4 separate regions of the Homo sapiens genome follow, and all the other regions are linked to region 1. Evidence: fine-mapped expression QTL. A gene starts in region 1. Each other region holds a variant in brackets. All regions are shown on one strand. Distances are between the middles of the regions.

Region 1 (6,153 bases):
GGCTGCCTCCTGGTGAGCAACCCTCTCAAACTTCACCCCCAGCCCCCACCGGGCACACAGGCTGCCTCCTGGTGAGCAACCATCTCAAACTTGACCTACATCGGGGAGGCCTGCCTGGTGGTCAGTGGCTACCTTACATCCTACCTGTGCCTCCACGTTCCCAGTCCTCACAGCCACCTGGCAAGGGTGAGGAACTGAGACTGCATGGGGAGGGCACGCAGCCTGTGAGTGATACAGCCAGGACCGCCCGCCACCCAGGCCCAGAGCTCTCTCCACTCTCCCCATTCTCTAAGGACCAGGCTGCAAGGCAGGGCATGTGATCTCTGCCGAAGACATTCGAGCCACCCAGTGATGTGTGCTGGGTCTCGATCCCCACCGACCGCCAGTCCTCTCCTCCCCTGGACAGTAAAGGTTTCTCCACGACTTCGGACCATGGTGTCACCTGAGGCCCACACCTGTTGAGTCACCGGGGCAGGTATGCGTGGCAGAGGACAGCCAGGAGCGCCGGAGAGGAGCTGAGGCCTCGAGGGGGTCTCTGAAGCCAGGCTCAACCCCCACTCTCCCCACTCCAACAGCCCTCACCACAGCCACCGCCGCCCAATCCAAACAAAGCCCAGCCTGATGCCAACCTCACCATCAACTGTTTTTCCTCTGACTTCCTCAGTTTTGTCTAGGAAAAATCAAGGTGTCTTATCACCCCTCTCAGCTTCCAGGGGTGTGATCAGTGTCTTTTACAATTATCTCTTATTTTTATCCAGTATTTCTTAGCTCAGTTGGCAAACTAGGTATTTATGCACCTCCATTTCACAATCCATCCCCACCAATTATGCCTGTAAAACTAACATTTTGTTGAAAAAAAGAGGTTAGAACTACTTAAAAAGGTTTTGTAAACAAGTTAACTAGCAGGCCACAACTTGAGTCTAGGGTGTCAGAGAAAACATGCAAGGTGGAAGAGAATGAGGAGCTGACGGTCACCAGTTTCACCTCCTTCCAGCGCCCACCCAACTCTCCTGCTCACACACACTCACACCCCGTGGGACTCAGCCTGCAGCTCCTCCCATCCCAGGAGCCCAGGAGACCGGCAGTAGGGAGGGGCACAGACCACACTTCCTAATAAATAAGAGGGAAGACTCGGTGCCCCATCGCTAATGCCATCACCCAGTCCCAGCCCAGCCATGGAGCCCACTCCAAGGGCCCCCCTGACAGTGCTGCTAGAGCCCACCGAGGGAAGGCTGCCGGCACACAGCCACAAGCTCCAGCTTTACCCACTCACGCCCTGGACATTGCCTGGAGCCCCAGCGTTCCAGGTCCGTGTCACCCTGGCCCTCCTGCCTGGCAGATCCTAAGCTCAGGAGACCCTCTCCAGCCCAGGCTGCAGGGGGAAGCAGCCCCCACGGTCACCCAGGAATCAGCACAGAGGGCAGGGCATCCTGGACGCCCTGGACTGGGAAACCCAGATCCTGTCCCCTGCGTAGTGGCGACACACAGGAGAAACCCCTGCCTCACCTCATTGGAGGGACCCTGACCCAGAGGCCTGAGAAAAAGCCACCTGCAGGCTCCTGGCACCTGCCAACCTGCACCTTAGGAAAACTCGTCCCACTTCAACCTGCAAAGCTCTCGGGTCATTATTTCTAAAATCACTGTCCTTTCTCAAAGAGGAAGGAAAACAGAAAAATAAAACAAAAACAAAAACAGAAAGAGGCACAGGAGGTTGAAGAGGCCAGAGGCAGTTTAGCCCAAAAACAGTGCCAGACGCAAGATGCCGAGTTCGGGGTGCCTCACCCTCCACATGCCCATTTAGGAGCTGACTGCACTCAACCACAGATTTATGTCTGGTGCCTGCCAGGTCGTATCTGAATAGATCTGAAAAATTAAGCCTTCCTTCTGCCAGTAAATACGAAGTTAAGACTAGCAGGCCCCTCTAAGGCTCTGCTCTCCACGGCGGTCCTCGGCAGGCGTCGGAGAAAGGAAGTTCGCCCCCTCCCCGCCTGGGCACACCGAGGCCCGCTGCCCGGCCCATGGCGCCCTGCTTGGGGACCGGGGGCCTCGATGTTCTCCTTCACCATCTGCAGCCAGATCTCCCGCCAGCAGCCTTGCCAGGCAGTGCCTGCCATGGGGAAGGGGCCAGGCCGAGGGGCAGGTCCGCGCCGTGCCCCCAACCGGGCACCTGCAGCCCAGGAGCAACGGGGTGTGGGGTTTTGAATTGATAAGTTTTCCCCTCTGGGCCTTATTATAAAGGGAAAGGGAAGGGGGCGAAGATCTGGGCTTGGGTTCTCTGGGGGCAGCGAACCCAGAGGCGACCCCAAACTCAGTAGTTGCCGCCCGGCACGGGGACTTGATGCCGGTGCCAAGCAGCCCGGCCAGCCCGGCAGGAGTCGAGCGGACAGCCCCGCCACACAGCGCCTCTTGTCCGCGCCGGGTGGCCCCTTGCCGCGGTGCCCCCCGCGCGGGATGCGAGAGCCGCCGCCTGGTCCCCGCCCCGCCCGCCCACCCGTCGTGGGAGGGGGAAGCGGCCGGTCAGAGAGGAGTGGGGCCGCCGGGCTGTACCCCCATATCCCAGCGGCGGCCGCCCCGCAGCCACGCTGAGTCGGGAGGGCAGCGCTCTGGAGCGCTCGGGCCGCAACCTCCGCGCCGCCCCCCACGCGTCCGGGTCCTCGCGGCGCCCCGGGCGGCCCCAGGCTGCCGCCGCCGGCAAGTCAGGCAGCCCAGGTTCCCCAGCTTACCTGGCCAGGGCGCTGGGCTGCCCGGGTACGCCGCCGTCCCCGCCCCGCTGCCGCCGGCTCAGTCCGCGAGGCCGAGCTCTTTGTGAGCCCGCGCCGAGCCGCACACCGCGACTGCTAATGAGCCCGGGAAGCTGAATAGCTTCCCGAATAGCGGCGGGCGCGCCCCGGACGCAGCGTACGGCACGCAGGGCCGCCTCTGCCGGGCGCACGCGGCGCGGCTGCGGGGCGCATCCCGCACCGGCCTGCGGCTGCCGGGCCTGCGCCCCCGCCCCGGCCGCTTCCGCCTCACCCGCGCCGGGCACACTGGGGCCGGAAAACGATTCCCGGCTAGATCGCGCGCCGTGAAGAGAGGGAAGACAAAGATGCGTCCGTGCCGGGCGTGCGCGAGGTCCTGCGCCCCCTGGCCCCGGCGCTGGGACAGTCTGCAGGGCAGGAGGGTGCACTCGGGACCCCGGGTCCCCCCGGGCCGGTCTCCGGGATCGGGGCTGGGACCCAGGCGCTGGAAGGCGCGGCGCCCCGAACGCCCCGGGCCCTGGGGAGCACACAGATTCCCGGGCGTGCCCCGGCCGTGCTGGCTGGGGAGCTGCAGGGGTCTGGTCCCGCAGGTAGAGCCAGTGAACGCGAGGCTCCGCAGGTAGAGCCGGTGAACGCGAGGCTCCGCACCTTGCCCCGGCCGCCGCGCCCTGCTTGCTCGGCCCCGCGCAGCTGTAATGGGGGACCCTAGAGCGAAGAACCCTCGAGCGAAGAACTCTCGGGGATCGCGGCCTCCGAAGGCCCCATCCGGCAGAGGAGGCCCCCTGCTGCCTCCCCACCGCAGCTCCCCTAGGCGCATGCTGGACTCCCAAGTCTTCCCTGGCGGTCCCCGGTAACCATCCCAGCACCCCGTTTCTGATACTCTGTGCTGCTTTAGCCCCCAGCCCCAGGGCCTCACTCCAGGGCTTTCTCTCCTTGCTGTCCTAAATGGAGAGAACCCTGACCTCCGCGGGGCCCTGGGGAGCGTACACTCCTAGACACTCACATGCATCCCCAGGGGAGCCAGTCTTCCGCCCCTACAGCGCGAGAAATGCCCTGGAGGCCCTCGAAGGTCGTGCTGGAGACTCCGGTGTCACCTTTGGCCCTCTGGCCCTTTCACTGAGTCCCAGGCAGATGTGATGAGCCATGGGAGATGCACAGGATGCCTTGTCTGGGCAGAGCGGGGGCTCAGGGGCCTCCCTCCCCCCAAATCGTGGTGATTTGCCCTCGTTTTCTTTTCTCCTGTGGCTGGATTAGGCGAAGCTGTGGCATGGGAAGTTCTGCCCAGGTCAGAAGGCACAGAAGGGCAGGGGGACTTGGGAGTGAGGACAGCGCATCTTCCTGCTGCCCTGAGGGCCCGAGCTGAGACCCTAAGGAGAAGGGGCTGGGGGAAGCCGAATCCTGAGATGGACTAGGGTTAGATACACTGTGGACTTGGCCTCTCCACACCCTGCCCCCACCAAACATTCACAGGTTTCCAGGGCCAGAGCCGCCAGTGGGGGCTGCTCCTGGTAGGGGAGCTTTGTAGCCACAGGGCCAAACAAAGGGGCAAAGGCCAGGGCAGGCCAACGAGGTTCCTGACCTATGCCCCTCCGTACTCAGATGAGCACACCTTCACTGTCTACTTTCCACCTGCATAGACATTCTGCTTACCTGGCTAACACAAAGTTCATCCAGCCTCCTGTGGCCCAGCCTTTCACCAATGCCAATAGTGGGAAGCAACAATTAAGAAGAAGTGATTCTGAGAAGATAAATGCAGTCATCTTCTTGCCTTACTGTTATGTGGTCACATCCCATAGGAAACCAGACACCTGTGCCTGAAGCTGATCCACACAACACCCCCCACCTCCTCAAACCCCCACCCCCATCTGTGTGAACGTGTGTGGGCCGGTAAGTTGCATGCTGTTCCTTCAACAGCCTCCCTTGAGATCTTCCCATGAGCAGGCTCTGGGCCAGTCACTGGAAATTAAACCCCATCGCAGCACCCGGGAGTGATAGTGGCTGAAGTCCTCAGTCCACAAGATGAAAGGTATAGGCCTAGGGCCAAGAACAGTGGCTCCCACCTATAATCCCAATACTTTGGGAAGCTGAAGCAGGAGGCTCGCTTGAGCCCAGGAGTTCAAGACTGCAGTGAGTTGTGATCGTGCCACTGCACTCCAGCCTTGGTGACAGAACAAGACCCTATCATTTTAAAAAATGAAATAAATTAAATAAATTTAAAAATAAAGGTACAGGCCTGCCCCCAGCCTCACTCAGGACTCCTAAATCTGGTGAGCTTGAGCCAACTGCCAGTATTCAGAGAATTTTTGAAGAATCATTAGGACAAACAGTTAGTGCATGTGAGGCTTAAAACCTAGATGACAGGTTGATAGGTGCAGCAGACCACCATGGCACACATATACCCATGTAACAAACCTACACGTTCTGTACTTGTATCTGGGAACTTAAAATTTTAAATTTAAAAAAAAAAAGTATCTTGGAATGGGAAAGGCCTTTCTAAGTATGCAACAAAATCAAAAAGTGGTAACAAAAAAACAGCTAAGTTTGACTTCAAAGAAACTCTGGCATGGCAATCACTACCATAAGCAAAGTCTACAACAAAGGGGAAAAAATTATTTGCAATTCATATCACAAGCAGCTAATTTCCCTAACACATAGATAGCATCTAGAAATTGATAAGAAAAAAAAAATCAAAAGAAGGCATCACGGATCATCACCAGGCCCCCACCTTGGCTCACACCTGTAATCCCAGCTACTCAGGAGGCTGAGACAGGAGGATCACTTAAGCCCAGGAGTTCCAGGCTGCAGTGAACTATGATCATCCCAATGCACTAAGCCTGGGCAGCAGTATGAGACTGTCTCTTAACAGAAAAGACAAAGAAACAGGTAAAGGGTAAGAAGCAGACAATTCACAGGGAAGGAAATACAAATGACTTTTAAACATCTGAAAAGCTGTCCTCCCTTATTCATAATAAGAAATGCAAATTAAGCCAGGCATGGTGGCTCACACCTGTAATCCCAACACTTTGGGAGGCCGAGGCAGGTGGATCACTTGAGGTCAGGAGTTTGAGACAAGCCTGGCCAACACGGTGAAACCCCGTCTCTACTAGAAATACAAAAATTAGTTGGGCATGGTGGTGAGCACCGGTAATCCCAGCTACTTGGGAGGCTGAGGCAGGAGAATCGCTTGAACCTGGGAGGCAAAGGTTGCAGTGAGCTGAGATCGCACCACTGCACTTGAGCCTGGGCAACAGAGTGAGACTCCATCTCAAAAAAAGAAAAAGAAATGCAAATTAAAACTATGCTGAGATGTCATTGTGTTCACTGATCAGAGACCCAGGAGTTCAGTAATACAATATATTCCAGAAAGCAAGAGGAAACTGGCAGATACCCACACTGCCCATGGGAGTGTAAATCA
Region 2 (6,153 bases), 59 kb before region 1:
TTCTCTACATGAACTAACCCCTGTGGGGATGCTCTGAACATCTAATGAAACCACAGATGCAAATGCCCCCTGAAAACAGTAGACTCTATACATGGGAATAACCACATCATCACCTCTCTGGATGGTGCAAGGACCCAGAAGTCCATGGCCCTGGGGTGGAGAACTGGCTCCCTAACACCCTGCAAGGCCAACCTAGAGCCACGACTTGGCTCTGAGTCTCCTAACACGAGGGATTGTTTGTTAGTGCTCCTTGAAAAGCTGCTTTATTTATAAATAAGTTGCCTGACAGCAAATCTTGAAGCAGAGACATTAGTCAGTTTTGAAAATTTCCACTTCAAACATTAGCAATTTAGAGGAAAAACCCATAAATGAGGTAGTATGTAGTCCTGGTACTGAGTAAAAAGTCAATCGTTCACTCCCAGTGAGATTTACAAGGTGGTTTGAGTCTCTAGAGGCGCTTTGCTGAGGCCTCCTGATTTTAAGGCTTAGTTCTGTGATGACCCAGGCAAGGAGCTCTGGTTCCCAGGAGGCTGTGGGGCTGCCTCTCCATTCTAGATGATGGGCCTGGGCTACGGGCCTCTCATGTCACAGATTCCAGTGGTGGAGCCGCTCCAAAGATAGGAAGAAGCCTGCAGAAGCCAGGCCTGAGCACAGCCACCTCATCCCCTAGCCTGAGAGGCAGCTCAAGGAACACAGCACTCATGACAGGACAGGTCAGGCCAGGACAGGTGATGGCTCCCTGATGGCTCTGGCTCCAAAAGAAGCCGAGAGAACGCACAGCCTCTCAAGGATACTCCAGCCTCTGTCCACCTGCACACACACCAGGCCACGCCCACGAGGACGGCCAGTCAGCATGCAGCCAATACACCCACAGAGGGATGGGGAGCAGCCCTCAGTGCCAGCTCCAACAGGCCCACTGCAGGTCCTGTCACTGCACCCAAGGAGCTGCCTTCCATTTCACCTGACATTTCCACTAAGGGCCCAGCGTTTATCATTCCAGAAGAGCAGCAGGCAGAACCTTCACCTCCCAAGAGCTGCAAGTGCGCTGTGGCAGGAAAAGAAGATCTGGCGTCTGAAGTCAGCTCCTGCTCTCCAGGAAAAGAGGGACGATGACATAGGACTTGAGCAAAATGAGAGCCCCGTGATGGGAGAGAACAACTGATCAATCTTGCTGCAATGGAAAGGCTTGGTCCCTGAGTCTCTGTGTTAGCTTCCTATGGCTGCTGTGACAAGTCACCATAAATCTAGTGACTTCAGACAACACCAACTTGCTCTCTTACAGTTCTATAGTTCAGAAATCCCACAGAGGGCTGAGTGCAGTGGCTCACGCCTATAATCCCAGCACTTGGCGAGGCTGAGGCAGGTGGATCCCTTGAGCCCAGGAGTTCAAGAACAGCCTAGGCAATATAGCAAGACCTTATCTTTACAAAAAAATGCAAAAATTAGCCAGACATGGTGGCATGTGCCTGTATCCCAGCTACATGGGTGGTTGAGGCACGAAAATGGCTTGAACCTAAGAGGTGGAGGTTGCAGTGAGCTGAGATGGCGCCACTGCACTCCAGCCTGGATGACAGAGCAAGATCCTGTCTCAAAAAAAAGAAAAGAAAAGAAAGAAAATAAAAAGAAAGGAATCCCACGCAGGTCTCCTTGGGCTAAGGTCATGGTGTCGACTGGCCTGGTTCTTTACGGAGGCTCTAGGCAAGAATCTGTTTCCTTGCCTTTTCTGGCTTCTAGAAGCCACCTGCATTCCTTGGCTTGCAGCCGCTTCCTCCATCTTCAAAGTGCATCACTTCAATCTCCACTTCCATCGTCACAGCACCTTCTCCTCTGACAATTAACTCCTCCAGCTTCCTTCTTATAAGGGTCACCATGATTATAAGGGCCCACCTGAATAATCCAGAATAATCTCTCCATCTCAAGATCCATAACTTAATCAGATCTGCAAAGTCCTTTCTGTCACATAAAGTAACAGATTTACAGGCGCCACAGCTAGGGTGTGGATATCTCTGAAGACCATTTTCCTGTCTACCACAGTCTCTGAATGACAAACGCTCTTTAAATTGGAATCCTATCTGCAACAAAATCAAGATCTAAATTAAGATTTTGAAACTCATTAGGGAGAGACACATGCATGAAGAATGCAACTGGGCCGCCCACATTTGCATAACAGTAATAGGCTTGTTATCCACTGCTTCAACCCGTCACACCCAGTGTGGGCACAAACACCAAACAGCCTTATGAGGCGGAACCCTCATACACTGTCGGCCCAGAGTCCTCCTCCTCATCACGACTCTATCTAAGACGGCTGTAAACACAGGATCTCCTCTGTGGAGAGTGTGTTTTCCCTCCATCAATCTTCCTGGGAACAGCAACAAAATGTAAGGAGCGGCACCGCCTGTAATCCCAGCACTTTGGGAGGCCGAGGTAGGCTGATCACCTGAGGTCAGGAGTTACCAGCCTGGCTAACATGTTAAAACCCTGTCTCTACTAAAAATACAAAAATTAGCCAGGCGGGGGGCAGGCGCCTGTAATCCCAGTTACTCAGGAGGCTGAGGCAGGAGAATCGCTTGAACTTGGGAGGCCGAGGTTGCAGTGAACCAAGATTGGCCACTGCACTCTAGCCTGGGCAACAGAGCAAGACTCCATCTCAAAAAAAAAAAAAAAATCAATGAGCGGGGATCCTGATTTTCAGATGTCTAGCCACCAATAACCCTAAACACACAAAACTGCACTTCTCCCTTTTTTGTAACGTGAAATTTTCATAACAAACCCCCAAATCCTGAGTGCTGACAAAACCATCCCAACGACATCACCCAGAGTGGTTATTTCCTGCGCCTTGGACAGCTGCGAGAATCAATGTGATTTCAAACACGAACAACTGTGAGTGGCCAAGGTCACCCTGAGATGTCCTGAGTTTTGACTTACATTGCTTCTGACTTTCACTTTTTAATGGTCGGCTGAATACTTAGGCTCTACCAGTCTCCTTCCCTCTGGTCGTCCCCGCGCCAAACAGAAACCTTGTTTTTCACAGAGTCCTGACAGTGACGCCGCGGCTGGCTGTGAGTTGCCAGGTGGATCTCCGCATGCTCTGCTGCACCTCCTGTGTGGCTGTGGTGTGCTGGGAAGAAGCATCAGGCTCCCCATGAACAAGGAAGGCCCAGCTCTTCAGGGCAAAGTTCAAATGAAGGAGGAAGCTCACTGCCTCCCTAGGCAAAGCGGGGGCAAGGCCTCTGCCAGCCCAGGACCCTCAGGTTCCCACCTTCTAGCAGCTTCCACTCCACCTGCTCTTCCAGGTGCCACCAGACTCCAGAACCCACGTGGGGCAAGCAGCATGGCGGGGCTGCAGTGCTGCCCGGACCTTTCTGCAGGGCTTCATCCCAAACCACAAAGGAGCATCGGGCAACCACATTTCATGTTCTTTTCCAGTGTCTCTTTTTCACACTGAAGTCTGAAGTGGAGGCTTCCTCCTGCCCCTCTCTGCACGTATCTCTGCACAGTACAGCTGTTCCATTCATTTCTCAACATCGCCTTGGTTCCTT[C/T]GGCACGCCGAGCAGCACACCAGGTTATAAAAGGCACAGGTTCTCCTGCTCACCAGGAACTCACACCTTAGGGGACATCGACTCTAAGAAACAGATGGGCTTGAGGGCATGTGGCCAGTATTGCGAGGAGCGAGTCCGCAGGGTGGTCCAGACCCAGCCTGGGAAGGTGTCCTGCGGAAGGGCGGAAGTAGATGCCATGTGCAGAGGAAAAACGAGTGAGGCGGGTGATGGAGACCCAGGAGGCATCCCAGGCAGAGGGTACCGGATGGACAGTGACACGGAGGTAAATCCAAGGGCCGGAGCAATTTTCTGGGGTGACTGAGCGTACAAAATAGAGGATGGCAAGAGGCAGGTTGGCAGGTGATCTAGGCTCCTGCACACCTTTCTGCATGGCTTAATCCCAAACCGCGAAAGAGCTCTGGGTGACCGCAATTCATGTTCTTTTCCAATGTCTCTTATCTGATGTCTCTTTCGGAAGAGACACAATTTGATCCTGAAAGCAGTCGCAGCCATCAGCAATACTCAGTCACATGTGCTGCTGGAAAAGATCACTTGGCTGCAGAGTGGAGAGTGGGCCAGGGTGAAGAGTAGGCCAGGGTGGAGAGTGGGCCAGAGGTGGCAGGATGCAAGGTTTAGGGCAGGAGGCTGTTCAAACGTCCAGCAGACACAGTAGGGAGTTGGGGAGCATGGGGGCCACGGCAGGGCACTGTGTAGCGGCCACCCCAGCCTCCCCAAGCAGGACAAAGGGGGCCCTCTGGGATCCATAAGAGCCTGTGGGCACACCATGTAGGGGCGGTGTCTGGTTGGCCCATGGGCCTTTGGGTCTGGAATGGGTGGAGCCCAGGGTGCAGCCACAGCCCAAGGAGGGGCCAGGGCTGGAGGAGCCAGGGCTGGAGGAGCCAGGGCTGGAGGAGCCGGGGCCATCGATGAGCGTCCTGGGGAGAAGGGCCCATGATTCCTGATGGAGGAGGCCCAGAACACTGTAGGCATCATGTACTCAGTGCTGAGTGAAAAGCTTCCCGCCACTCAGAATGGTCACGCTCGGGATGGCTGAGACATCTGCAACTCACAACTCTCACCTCCCAGCTGTGGCACTGAAAGCCTCCCTCAGAGCCTTGGTTTCCTAACCCACCGAACAGGATTAACTGCACTTGCCAGAAAGGGCTTGTGGTAGCATTTCATAGGACAGTGCAGGCCAATGCTCTTTGGAAGTCGCAGATGCAGGGCACAGATGGGAGATGGCATGGACAGGTCCTGCTCGTCAAATAGCCGGGGAGTCTCCCATGCTTCTTGGTCTCCCTAAGCTGGGCCACATGGCAGCTCTGATCCATGGCACGTGAGCAGAGGGGACCGTGTCACTCCCAGGCAGAGGCAGGTCTGAGCTGTGAGCCCTGTAGCCTGGCCAGAACCGGTGTCCCAGGGCAAGGAAGAAGCCTTTAGTATGTTCACGCTGTTGAGGCTCACCCAGCCTGACTGGCCAGAAATCAGTTAGGCCACAGACAACCCTGTGGCCTCAGGTAGAAGGCCACTGTCTCATTCTGAATGGTAGTTTTCAAAAACTCAAGGAACCGCGTGAGGAAGGAAGGGGGATTTATAAATTCCTGATTCCATTAGCTTTGCTCTGTAATTTTGGGTGAGTCACAGCATGCACAAATTAGAGGGCTGAAAACATCTCCCAGACAGTCTGGCAGAAGCCCCCCCTGAGAACGAGGAAACCGAGGCCCAGGAAGGAGCAGAGTCGCTCAGGGGCTGCTCCAGCGGCCACGGGCCTCGGGGACAACGCAGGCCCAGCCCGGGGAGAAGCCCCACGCCAGCCTTCTCTCTCTCCCTGCAGGGAAGAGGCAGCCACACAACTGGGCATGTCCTTCTGGCCTGCACACCTGGGAGTCTCCAACAGACGCTCACTCGGGTCCTGGGGTAAGGATACCTCCCAGGTCGCTTACTGGAGAAGGAGCCACACATGTGTCCCTGGGTCTGATGGTTGCAAGAGGAAATGGAAAGTGGGGGATCCCGCGCTGGCAGGAAGACCCTGGCAGTCTGCATCAGGCAGGTGGGTCCAACAACCGACCTCAGGGTGGGCTCAGGCTGGAAAAAACCACACCGAGTTCCTCCCCCAAGAAATACTGAAGACAGCAGCAATAAGTTCCATGTGCTCCCCATTCGCCCCTCACAGAAAAGGCCAAAAGGCATGACCATGGAATCATCAAACTATTCCCAACACAGTTCCTTATGGGAAAGAACATGGAATGAAGTCACAGCCAACAACAGAACTCCAAGGTCCCCTAGTAAAGCGCAGACCCCAGACAACAAAGATACGAGTGGGTCTGAGTCAAGACAGAAGACAGGATTACACGGGAAATGGCAGCAGTGAGCTGCGAGTGCTGCAGGAAGGAGCGCGGCCCACAGTGGAGGGAGACAGCACTCCCACGACGAAGCGCCACATCCTGCACCAGCAGACTGTTCACAATTGCCCACTTGCACCTTCAAGACCACTTCCAGGAACTTCTTCCTTTGACTTTTATGTTGTTAAAATAATTTTACTTTTTTAGAAAACATAGTGTAAATATTTAGCTTAATAAATGGCTATGAGGCCAGGCGCAGTGGCTCACGCCTG
Region 3 (6,153 bases), 34 kb before region 1:
AGATATTCCACTGGGCACAGAGCTCCTGCGGGACAATGGCTGGCTGTAGAAGATGCTCCCACCTCTGCAGGAGGGGCTGAGCTGCTCCCACAACCAGACCCTGCAGGCAGCTCGAGAACATGTCCTGCACAATCGCCTTGTGGGGACTAACTGTGGTGGCCACCAGTGTCTTGGGCTGCCCTGCTGCTGCCCCTGGGGAGGGCCCTGCCCACACTGGTGGTGCCTGGGACTGGCTACCTGGGTCAAGGCAAGCAGCCTGGGGTGCTGAGCAATTTAGGAATTGTTATTGCCAGGTCGAGCGGAAAGAACCTGCCCACTTTCTGCCAGCCCCTCCTCCTGGGTCCCTGGGAAGAACTGACCACCGGGATGCCCCCAGCCTATGTGCACCCCATGGGGAAGGGAGGCTGCCCAAGAAAGCAGCACAGCTCCACCAGGAGGACAGAGGCACTCAGTGCAGCTGGGAAAAGGGACCTGGGGCACTCCAGGGACAGGATCTCCGAGGTGAGACTGACAGGGTTACAGGGAATGCACAGTCTTCTCCTAGCAACTGGTCCCCTGTAAATGTCTGTTCTTCCCCTTTCGCCTCAAAATAAATGTAAGCGTATGTGAAGTTTGTGAAAGCAGAAAGCAAAAATATTTACCGTAGCTGTGTTTAAGCTTTTATTAGAGAAAGGTGAGGGCCATCGTGGCTATAACTCTTCTTACGGCCCCCAATTAGCACATCAGCCCAGACTCATTCATGAATGCCACATTAAGTGCAGTGGGGATCATAACGGGTTCTACTCACTCAGAATCTCCAGACACAAGAAGAGGCTCACCCCGTCTGTCCACAGGACAGTCCTGGCCTATTGGTGGTTTGTCCACAGGAGATTCAGCAACGCGTAAATATTCAGGAGACTGTAAAGAAAAAGAACACAAACAAATGAAGCGTCAACCAGCTGAGAAAGGAAACCACTTATTCACCCACAGAGGGGCAGGTGTGGATGGCAACGATGGGCCACACGCTCATATGGGAGGCTAACAGCTCCCTCCCCAGAACCTCTAGAGCAGCTGGAACTCCAAGGCTCTCCAGAGCAGCTGAATATCTGAAAAACCAAGCGTCACAAGTTGACCGTGATTCTCCCCCAAGTCTTCAAGTGAACCTTCGTGTTTATTTCCAAAGGTCAGTGAGTATGGACAACTAATGATTTCGGGCCACAGGTAGCAGAGCTGCATGCTAAGCTTGTGGGGAGTACATTTTTCAATGTAGGAAGATTTTGTAGGAAGATAAGGGAAATCTCGTGCCATTAATATTTCAGGTTTCATTTGCTCTGACAGGAAATGAAACACATTCATCAGGGTTCTGTTCCCAACTTGTTTTTTCAAAGTACAAAATGCTGCCTGAGATACAGAGCTTGTGGCATAGAGCATGCCACACCTAGTAGGCTGGGGGATGTTCTACCAAATACACTAAACAAACCCCCTGCAGAGAAAGGGTGATGGTGCCCACGTGCTGGTGCCCAGAGAAGCCATCAGATTAGCCAGTGACACTGTTTCTCCTTGAGATGCAGGTGGCCATCAGCGCTCAGCCAGCACCCCTTACTGATCAGCACCATCTGCCTGGACTTCGCACAGAACTGAGCTGCAGAGATAGACGTCCTAGCTCTGCCACTGACATCCTGAGAAGACTATGTAACCTGCCTGTGCCTCAGTTTCCTTATTATGAAGGATGATGGCAGCACTGAGATATGGGGGTTCAGGCTCCAGCTCCAGCACCTGCTCCCAACCCCTCTCACCCTCATCTTCCTACCACACCAAACGAGGGAGCTGACAGCCATTCCTTAAGAGGTTCCTCCAGCTTTAACATCCACGGCTGCTGCCTTCCAACTTGATACTTCCTCTAATCTGTGTTTCCTGCCTGGGAGCAGGCCACCCAGCTGGAGGCCTCCTAAACCCAAACATTTATTCCCACTCCACGGGCCCACTCTGATACTGAAGCACAAGAAGGAGTAGTGTCCATTTTGGGGAAACCCAGGCCAAACCCCACCTGCCTGCTCCTACCGTGGTGTGGGCATGAAAGGCACACCAAGAGCCAGGGACTCTAATGGGGCCCAGGGAGGCACAGTTCTGCATGACAAGGCCATTGCCTCCAAGTCATGGCATGCAAAGCACCTGAGGTCCTGGGCCTAGACCCTGCCCATGGCTTCCTTGCCCCATCACACCCCAAATCCCTGTGCCATCTGTGCCTCACCTCTTCTGTGCCCATGTTTAAATCTTTTTGTTGCTGTTGTTCCTCTAGAATCTTCCTGGCAAACTCCTATTCATTCTTCAAAACCCAGCTGGTGCAGGCATCTCTGAATTCTAGGGGAAATCACACTCTTCTCAGCCCTGTCTTCTTTCTGCAGTCCTCACAATCATTCGTGACCACTTCTCCCATTCCCTCTCAGGCTCCTACCTGGCCCCGAGAGGGCACACAGTTTATAGACTGCACATGATGCTGCTGGCCAGTAAACCCTCAAAAGCAGCCTTAAAGAAGGAAGATAAATGAAAGCAAATGCAAAGGCCGAGGAGGGGCCTCTGCTGGGTGAGGAGGGAGCATCGGGCTGGGAGTCAAAGACATCGGGCTACAGAGGAAGCAAGCTGCCACAGAACATGCCACTGTCGCCACACGGAGCACCCACAGCCATGCTCAAGCCCATTCTTATCCCACGGACAAACGGGGCCTCCAGATGTTTCGGACTGAGGAGGGGGTTATCACATCAATATGGATCAGGATGACCTGGGGGAGCGGGGCTCATCTGGGAGCCCCCAGAAAGGAAATGCAGAGGTTGCCCTCAGGGCCAAAAGTACACAGCCCTTCTGGGACAAGACAGCTGCAGGATGCTCACTGAGTCCCCGCTGCAGGGTGTGCTGATGAAGCTGTTCAGGAGACACAGGGAAAGAGCTCCTCCCTGACCTCTGCCTCCTCTGGGAAGAACCAGCCCTGCATACTGAGCCAGAGAAAGCCTGGCCTGCCCAGCTGTGCCCCTGCCGGCCCCCACAGCACGCCACACTGCAAAACCACCGTTACCTGCCACGGGGCCGGGGGCTGCCACCTGCCACATGTTCCTGAAGCTAAGCATACAGCCGGTTTGACCCGGAGCAGAGGGGCAGTGATGCGGCACCCAGGAACCAGG[A/G]AGTCAGCGGTTGTTCATTCTCCCTCCGTTCAACAACCGCGGGCGGGGCTCAGGCTCCTGGCTTTCTGTGTGTCGCAGTGCCCAGCAGATGACTCTCCCTGCAGGGCGTGTGTGGCATCCTGCCTCCTTCCCTTGACTCGGCCTCTCCCCCTGCCCACCCAGGTAAAAGGTTCGCAAGGAAGTGCAGAACACTCCAGCAACTCTCAGATAATCCCCACAACCGGCCGGGCGCAGTGGCTCACGCCTGTAATCCCAACATTTTGGGAGGCCTAGGTGGGCGGATCACGAGGTCAGGAGATTGAGACCATCTTTGCTAACATGGTGAAACCTCGTTTCTACTAAAAAACGCAAAAAATTAGCCGGGCGTGGTGGCGGGCGCCTGTAGTCCCAGCTACTCCGGAGGCTGAGGCAGGAGAATGGCGTGAACCCTGGAGGCGGAGCTTGCAGTGAGCCAAGATAGCGCCACTGCACTCCAGCCTGGGAGACAGAGCGCGACTCCGTCTACAAAAAAAAAAAAATAATAATCCCCACAATTAACTGGCAAGCGGCCCTGCCCAGCCTCGCAGTGAGTGGGCGGGACAGGAACGTTCGCTCGGTGATGTGGGCAACAACCCCAAGCAGGACGCCAAGCGACCGGTCGCCCGCTCTCCAGCTGCCATGGCGACACCAGGCCCAGCAGTAGCCTCTGCAGCCCCCTCCAACCGGGATCCTGCATAGGCCCCGCTGCAACCACCCCCAGCCCCACCCCCACCCCCAACCCCACCACACCCACACGCATCAGGCACTCCTTTAAAATACATCCCGCCCGAGTGTTCCCACAATGACGCGGACGCCAGGGGGCGACCAAAGGGAAGGCTGGTGGAGAAGAGCACCGGGATTCCTCCTTGCAGTGGGGGAAGCCATCTGCTTCACCTCTCCCACCTGGGAGTCCTGCTTCCTCCAAGGACAGGGACTCGGGGCCTGGAGGGGGCGTTGCGCATCAAGGCTGCTCCTGTGTCCCTCTCCCTTCAGGAGTGAGCCACGCCTCCTTTCATGAGTTCTCCCTGTGTGCCAGTTGGCCAGGTGGCCATTCCAAAATAAAGAAGGGGCTTGGCTGCCGAGGGCAGTGGCCTGGGTTGAGACCCGGCTCTGTCACTGACCGGCTCCGTGGCGCCAGGAACGCTTCTGCACCTCCCTGTGCCTTTTCCCTCACCCACGGAGACCGCAGGCAACGCTGCAAAACTCAAAGCAGACCACCTCAGCCTGCAGGCCTTCCCTTCCCGCCGAGCCTATGCCTCCCAAGTGCTCAGCAAACACTCGCGGTGATTCTTATCCCTATCTGGGCAGAATCCTCGGGGACCGACTGGGGGCAGCTTCCTTGCCCCACAGTGGCATCTAAGCAGCAGGCAGCTGAGCTGGGGTAGGCAGGTGAAAGGAGCAAGGGAGGCTGCTGAGACCAGAAAGGAGCAGAATGGGGCGGGGGCAGGATGCAGTGAGTGCTGCTCCCCAGAGACCAGCTGGCCCCCAGTACCCCTGCCCCACGCCACAGTAAGCCGGGGTGCAAAAGGATGTGACAAAAAGTTCTCCTCAAAACAAGAGTCAGCTAATAAGACAAAAAGCAACTAACGATCTACTAAAACAAAGACATGGTAGCTGAGTCATTCCCCATTTGTCAAAACTCATAAAATATACAACATGAAGAGTGAACCCCAATATGTTTTAACTATGGGCTCCAGTTAATAATAATACTGCCCCATCAATGGTAACGAATGTACCACACCAATGTAAGATGTTAATAATGAGGAAACAGGGGAAATGGGGTGAGGGTGTACAGGAGAACTCCCTAAACTTTCTGCTCAATTTCTCCATAAACCTAAAACTGCTGAAAAAAAAATTAAATCTATTAATTTTTTAATATGGTGGTTGATTCATTCAAAAGGCTAAATGTGAGAATGGGATACCATTAAACGGCCAATGGGTAAAGGGAAGATGGGGCTACAGGATTCTCCCAGAATGCAGTGCAAGCCGGACCCTAGGAAGGAGCCCTGGAGGGGAGCAGGTTTCTCCTGAAGCTGGTGAGGGCCATCAGGCTCTGGGTACCATCTCAACCCCCCTCATCACAGTCCCTCTCTCTCCAAATTGAGGAGTGTTCATGAGAATTCTCAGGATTTTAGTTATTTACCGTCTTTCCCCAGTACTGCTTTCCTGGGGGTTTGGAGGGAGGGCAGGGAGGATGGAAACAGGAAAGGAAACGTTAGTAACCATGCCACCCTTTGCCCGGGTCCCTGGCTTCTCCCAGGCTGCCACATTTCCCACCTCATGGCCTCAGAGAGTCCCCCTCTCTCTATTCAGCTGTTGGCAGAGAATTGCTTTTTTGCTAGCTTTCCCTTTTTTTGAGAAGTGTATTTCTTTAGAATGAAGCCTTTCAGAAAGGCAATTCAGCATTCTCTATCGAAAATTTAAATAGGCATATCCTTGTGCCCAAAAATTCCATTTCCAGGAGGACTCACATGTATAAAAAATGATGTCTGAAGATTTTCATTGCCGCAATCTTTTAAAAAACTGGAAACCTAAGTACCCATAAATAAGAGAATGGTTAAATAAATGACGACAGAGTTCACGTGCTGGAAGAGTCAACGGCGTTTTTAAAGAGGCAGGGCAACGCGCACTACAGTGAGGGATCTTACAGGCCTGTTTTTGAGGGAAAATGGTAAGTGAGCTACAGCGAGCACACGTGTGTAGATCCCAGTTACAGGTCCGTCAAGATGGCTAGAGAATACACACACTGCCCAGCCCATACACACGTGCAAAGGCACACAGAAAGGGGAAACCCCTCAAAGGCTTGTCAGCCATGTCCTCTGGGGAGGGGAGCGGGGAGAGAGGTGGGAGAGGGAGACAGGTGGGAGCAGAGGGGGCCTGGACATTTTACTTTATTAAAGATATGTGTACTGGTTGAGTGTTTCACCAAAATGCATCTAATATTCAGCAGCAATATAATCAAACCCACCTGTGTGCCTTT
Region 4 (6,153 bases), 100 kb before region 1:
CCTGATGCCCACTGCAGGCCAGGATGAAGGGGAAGAGAAGGTCTGCAGGCAGCTTAGCCACGTCTACGTCTGACCCCAGGGAGTGCGGAGACAAGCAGAGGGTGTACACAGCCCGCCAAGGCCGCCTCTGCTGGCTTGCCTCCTCGTCATTGTTCTCTCCTAAGCAAATGAGGCTTCTATTTTTGCTGTGAGGAGCCTGATGCCTTCCAATTCCCAGGCACCCCCTGGAGCGGGGATGGGATTTCGTTTTCCGTTCAGGCAGCTCAGGGATGGAAGCAGGGCCACCCAGGAGACCGGGAGCCAGAGTGAAGCAGCATCTGCCAATCTTCTCAGACACATCTGAGCTCCAGCTCTGGCCATGGTGACGCCTGTGCATACAGCCCCGTGTGGCCACACAGGGCCCAGCACACTAGGTTGCATTAGTCTATCTTGTGCTTACTATGACAGGCACTAACTGATTCACAGATACGAACCTGCGCATCCTCCCAGGCCCACCGTGGGGAGCCATCATCCCATTTTGCAGATGAGGACACTGAGGCATACACAGACTAAGCCTAAGGCCACACAGGAAGTGTTGAAGCTGGGATTTAACCCTGGCAATGTGGCCCCAGAATCCACACTCTTAGCTTCTACATTATGTTAGAAGGAAGAAAAGAAAAAAGATATTTATGGTACATAAACTCAACAACGGATCAGATTGATCAATAAGAAAACAGAAAAAAAGGTGCAAAAGATATGGCCAGTCATTCACAGAATACCAAATATATGAAAAAATATATATGTGAAAATAGATACATGGAAAGATGTTAGCCTCACTGGCACGCAGGGAAATGCAAATTAATACCTCATGTAGACAGCACTTTCACGCATTAGACAAAAATGTAAAATGTCTGACAACACCAAGTGCTGTCAAGAAAAAGGAGAAGAGGAAACTCATACGCTGTCAGTGGGACCACTCATGAGGACACCCACACACTTTGGAATAAAATTTAGCTGTTTCTAGTACGTTTGAAGATTACTGTACTCTCTCCCATAGCAATTCCAATCCTTGCTAAATATACTGACAAATCCAGCTCACGTTCACAGAGAGACACATACCTGAGTACTCAAGACAACCTTGTTTGTAGCAGCAAGTCACAGGAACCCAACTAAGCATCCATCAATGGAGAACGACAAATAGTCTTATGTTTGTACAATGCAATACCACACAGCAGTGAAAATGCATGAAATACAGCCACCTGTTTTCACATGGATGAATCTCACAAACATAATGTTAAGCAAAAAAGGCACACTGGATGGGCGCGGTGGCTCAGGCCTGCAATCCTAGCATTTTGGGAGGCCAAGGTAGGCGGATCACTTGAGGCCAGGAGTTCGAGACCAGCCTGGCCAACATGGCGAAACCTCGTCTCTACCAAAAATACAAAAATTAGCTGTGTGCAGTGGCGGGCGCCTGTAATCCCAGCTACTCGGGAAGCTGAGGTAGGAGAATCGCTTGAACCCAGGAGGTGGAGCTTGCCGTGAGCCGAGATCACGCCACTGCACTCCAGCCTGGGCAACAGAGCAAGACTCCATCTCAAAAAAAAAAAAAGGCACACTACAGAAAAAAATACAAGGTGATATCATTTACATAACGCTTACAGACAAAATGCAGAACTAACAGGGATAGAAATACTTATACATGTACTAGGCCATAAACAAGGATCAAACTTCAACAGTAGTTACCTCTGTGTGAAAGACAAGATGCAACTGGGGAGGGGCTCTAGCTGCAATGGTGTTATGATGCTTTAAAATACATCCACAGGCTGGGCATGGTGGCTCATGCCTGTAATCCCAGCACTTTGGGAGGCTGAGGCGGGCAGACCACTTGAGGTCAGGAATTCGAGACCAGCCTGGCCAACATAGTGAAACCCTGCCTTATTAAAAATACCCAAATTAGCCAGGTGTGGTGGTGTGTGCCTGTAAATTCCAGCTACTTGGGAGGCTGAGGCAGAAGAATCACTTGAACCTGGCAGGCGGAGGTTGCGGTGAGCTGAGATCACATCACTGCACTCCAGCCTGGGTGACAGAGTGGTGAGACTCCATCTCAAAAAAAAAAAAAAAAGAATATATATATATATATATATATATCTCTCTCCACATATTCTTTGACACTCCCTTCAAAGAGTGGAACCTAATTCCTTTCTCTTTGAGTGTGGCCTGAATTTAGTGACTTGCTTCTAGTGAACAGACATAAGCAGAAATGACAGTGTATGACTAATGAGACCAGGTCATAAAAGGCACAGCGGCTTCCTCTCTACTCTCTCTATACTCTCTCTTGAATCACTGAGGCTGGGGGAATCCGCCTGCCATGTTGTGAGGACACTCAAGCAGCTCTGTGGAAAGGTCTATATGGCAAAGAACTGAGCCCTCTTGCCAGCCAACAGCCAGGTGAAGTCGATCTTGGACGTGGATCCTCCTGCCCCAGTCAAGCCTTCAGGTGCCCCAGCTCACATCTTTCCCCTCCACTAGAACCACCCAGCTCAGCTGCTTCCATATTCCTGGCCCACAGACTATGTGTGAGATAATAAATGTTTACTGTTTTATACCACTAAGTGTTGGCATAATATGTTACACAGAAATAGGTAACCAATATGGTAGTATTCTCTACCTTTAGCAGCTTGTGGATACCTAGCTGTTCATCACATTATTCTTGTTACATTTTTGTATGCTGCTACAGACTGAATGTTTGTGCCTGCCCTTCTCCAAATTCAC[ATG/G]TTAAAACCTAATGCCCAAAGTGATGCTATTAGACAGTGGGCCTTTGGGAGGTGATTAATGGGATTTGTGCCTTTGTAAAAGAGACTCCAGAGAACTCTCCTGAGCCTTCCACCAAGTGAGGATGTAGTGAGAAGATGGCCTTCTATGAACCAGGAAGCCCTCACCAGACAGCAAATCTGTTGGCGCCTTGATCTTAGACTTCCCACATCCAGAACTGTGAGAAATAAATGTCTGTTGTTTGTAAACCACCTAGTTTATGGTATTTTGTTACAGTAACCTAAACAGACTAAAATATATGCCAATTGTTTCCAAAGACTAACATAAAAATAAGAAGGGGACCAGGAGCAGTAGCTCATGCCTGTAATCCGAACACTCTGGGAGGCCAAGGCAGGCAGATCACCTGAGGTCAGGAGTTCAAGACCAGCCTGGCCAACATGGTGAAACCCCGTCTCTACTAAAAATACAAAAATTAGCCAGGCGTGGTGGCACACACCTGTAATCCCAGCTACTAGGGAGGCAGAGGTGACAGTGAGCCAAGATCATACCACTGCACTTCAGCTTGGACAACAGAGGGAAACTCTCAAAAAAAATTTTTTTAATAATTAAAATTTTAAAAAGAAAAGCAGAGTGGCCAACAGTAGTGACCTGCTAAGTACAGGCTGAGAAGTGGCGCTCCTTCTTACGGAACAGGCTGAGTGTTCCTACGAAACAGGCATCCACTGCAACACTCAAGAGTGCTGGATGACAGGAAGTGACCAGCCAGCGCTGGCACAGGAAACGCTGTCTGTCACATTAACCAACTAGTGAGTCCTACACCTGAATGGGCTCAGCACTTTAGTTAATGTTTGCAGATGTTGGGCAGTGACAAGCAAGGACGCAGAGTGGGCACATACTTTGTCCTTTTGGGTGATCGGGGAATGGCTTCTCTCCTCCAGGAGGCAGGAAACTTTGAGAAGCCTCCTCTATGGGCTGGAGAGCCGCCGGGAATTGTAACTGGGCAGGGGAAGAGGAGGCAGAAGGATTTACTGCATTACGATATTAATTTTAATTAAGGAGACTTTTTTAGGCCAAACAAGCATATGCTTGTGCCTGAGAGGCAGGGAGGGCACCACATCCCCCAGGAGGATCTTGCTGGAATGGAGGTGTCTGGCAAGCCCAGGGCAGCCACCTGCTCCGCCGCTCCTCCCAGGTCCTGAAGCCATCAGGAAGGACTGTTCAGAAGCCAGGGTCTGGCCACCAACACATCTGTCCTTCTTTGTCTTCTATCTCTCTCCTTCCTTCAGATTCCAGAAAGCAGAAGTGCGTTTCATAGAACGAACCAGCTGAGCTGGTCAGACAGAGTCAACCGGATCCAGTTAAAGCAGCAAGAACTCGTTACATCCAGGAGACCCCATCTGTACCAGTCTCGAAGATCCGCTGTGGAACTACTGAAGACCACTTATTTTAAATCCTTTCTAAGAGCAGAAATCCAAAATCTCAACATGTGCTATTTCCCTCAATTTACTCATTCCAAGAAAAACGAAGTCCAAAATCCATTTTAATTGAAACAACCCCTTTTCTGGCCATGATCTGACAACAGACATCACCGTAACACCTAATACACACATCCCACGCATGCTTTCCTTTTTGAAAAACAGTCAGCTGAGGTGGCAGAAGCACTTAGGCCTCCTTTCAGTGCTCTCTGACCTCGGCTTGTTAGGAAAATGACCACGAAAATCTGGACCCGATGTTGTTTGTTCTCATTATTCACTGCCCTCTGGCTGGTAGACAAAAAGTGCAAAGCATGAAGGGGCGTGTGGGGTGCTGGAGCCTGATCTGAAAGCATTGTGTGCCCTGGCCCAGAACATGCTGAGCCCGTGCCCCTGCAGTGCAGCCACAGAGCACAGCAGCCGTGCTCAGCCTCAGGGCCTCCCAGAACCCCACCTCCTCCTCTTCTCCCAGCCAGTCAGAGCCTGGCTCAGACAGACACAAGCCTGAAGGGTGTGATGTCACCAAACCTTCCTGCCACAGCCACCCAAGCTCAGCCTCAGGATCCAATGTGTACAGACTGGACAGAGGTCAGCTCAACCACTGAGGCAGAGGGAGCACCAATCCAAGCCGCTCTGCATCCCAGGCAGCTCCCCCAACCTCCAGAGACGGCAGTGGTTGGCGGAGGGGGAGAGAGGGAGAGAGAGAGAGAGAGAGAGAGAGCAGCTCCCCCCAACCCCCAGAGATGGCAGTGGGGGGAGAGAGAGAGAGAGAGAGAGAGATAGAGCAGCTCCCCCAACCTCCAGAGATGGCAGTGGGAGGGGGGAGAGAGAGCGAGCAGCTCCCCCAAACTCCAGAGATGGCAGTGGGGTGGGGGGGGAGAGAGATAGAGAGACAGAGCAGCTCTCCCAACCCCCAGAGATGGCAGTGGAGGGAGAGATAGGGATAGACAGAGAGAGATATACAGCAGCTCCCCCAGCACCCAGAGATGGCAGTGGGGGACACCCAGAGAGAGACAGAGAGACCCTGCCTCTCTTCTAATGAGTGGTAACCACAGCGCGCCCCTCCACTGGTCTGAGTTGGAAACGGGACCAGGAAGGATCCTGGCACTTGAGAGGAAACCACAGCAGAGAGACTGAGTCAGGGGGCTGGAAGCTGATACTGGCTCAGAACTGGGTGGCAGTATCAGCCACCCAGTGGCTAAGCCTAGGTTCTGTGACACTAAGCCTAGGTTCTCCCAGCTGTGAAATGGGGATAATTATAGTCCCCTATAAGCCTATGTCATGGGGTTGCTACGTGGCATAAATGAGGTGCCGGCAGGTACTCAGTGGGAAACACACACCGGCTCTTGTTCTAAAGCCCTCAGAGCCCTGCCTCCGCAGCTCCCCCTGCCCTCACTCCCCCAGCATGGCCCGGCACTCAGAGTCCCGAATAATAACGCCTCGAGAGCTTGCTTTCAACCCCACTGTGAGCCCCTCCAGGGCAGGACCCTACACCCAGACTAGCCTCCCCGATCCCAGAATCCCCCACCTTGCCACCTGTGCACCCCACAGCAGTGTAACTGATCAACCGAGGGCACGCCTCACACCAAAGTGTGAGTGTCTGCACGGCCTCTGGATACCTTCAGAGAGGACACTCATTAGCCCAGAGAAAGCCAGGTTCCTGGGGCAGGGCAGGGCAGGGCAGGGCAGAGGTCTTCTAGCACCACTTATACCTCAGCAGGACTCAAGCCCAGGGGTGGGGACCACAGAGTGGCCTGGGTGCTTGGGATCACAAATCCCATTAATCTACTCCTAAAACCCTTCCCGCAGATCCCATGGCCTAACCTTCCCCAGAGGTGGGTTTCTCGGGAGAAGGCAATGTTCTGTCTTGGGCTACTAAGGAGCGTACTCCACCCAGTGGGGGAAAGGGCCCATCTGCCCACAGAGCTGA

Direction of the effects. Positions count from the first base shown, and alleles are read on the strand shown. Sizes are in standard deviations (SD) of each study's normalised expression. Not every link is listed here.
As copies of ATG replace G in region 4, the expression in follicular helper T cells of the gene that starts at base 3,028 in region 1 goes down (large effect, 1.0 SD a copy in Schmiedel 2018).

Evidence for each region. PIP is the estimated chance that this variant, and not a neighbour inherited with it, causes the effect. A credible set is the group of variants that fine-mapping cannot tell apart.
Region 2: its variant is the best candidate, but not a certain one, in a credible set for the expression of APBA2 in whole blood (TOPMed, PIP 0.82).
Region 3: its variant is the best candidate, but not a certain one, in a credible set for the expression of APBA2 in blood mononuclear cells (TOPMed, PIP 0.65).
Region 4: its variant is the best candidate, but not a certain one, in a credible set for the expression of APBA2 in follicular helper T cells (Schmiedel 2018, PIP 0.81).

What each region holds. Positions count from the first base shown.
Region 1 is chr15:28,882,849-28,889,001 of GRCh38, reverse strand. It overlaps APBA2 (amyloid beta precursor protein binding family A member 2), which reads right to left and starts at 3,028. Exons shown (of 15, transcript NM_001353788.2): 1 at 2,724-3,028.
Region 2 is chr15:28,942,034-28,948,186 of GRCh38, reverse strand. The region is part of intron 2 of APBA2 (amyloid beta precursor protein binding family A member 2); the gene reads right to left. Among named protein-coding and RNA genes, the nearest start is that of APBA2, 59 kb to the right of the region's middle. The variant C/T (reference allele first, on the strand shown) is at 3,540.
Region 3 is chr15:28,916,384-28,922,536 of GRCh38, reverse strand. It overlaps APBA2 (amyloid beta precursor protein binding family A member 2), which reads right to left. Exons shown (of 15, transcript NM_001353788.2): 2 at 788-897. Among named protein-coding and RNA genes, the nearest start is that of APBA2, 33 kb to the right of the region's middle. RefSeq lists enhancers at 3,140-3,729, 3,897-4,419 and a silencer at 3,937-4,231. The variant A/G (reference allele first, on the strand shown) is at 3,156.
Region 4 is chr15:28,983,704-28,989,856 of GRCh38, reverse strand. All of the region lies in intron 2 of APBA2 (amyloid beta precursor protein binding family A member 2), which reads right to left. Among named protein-coding and RNA genes, the nearest start is that of APBA2, 100 kb to the right of the region's middle. The variant ATG/G (reference allele first, on the strand shown) is at 2,752.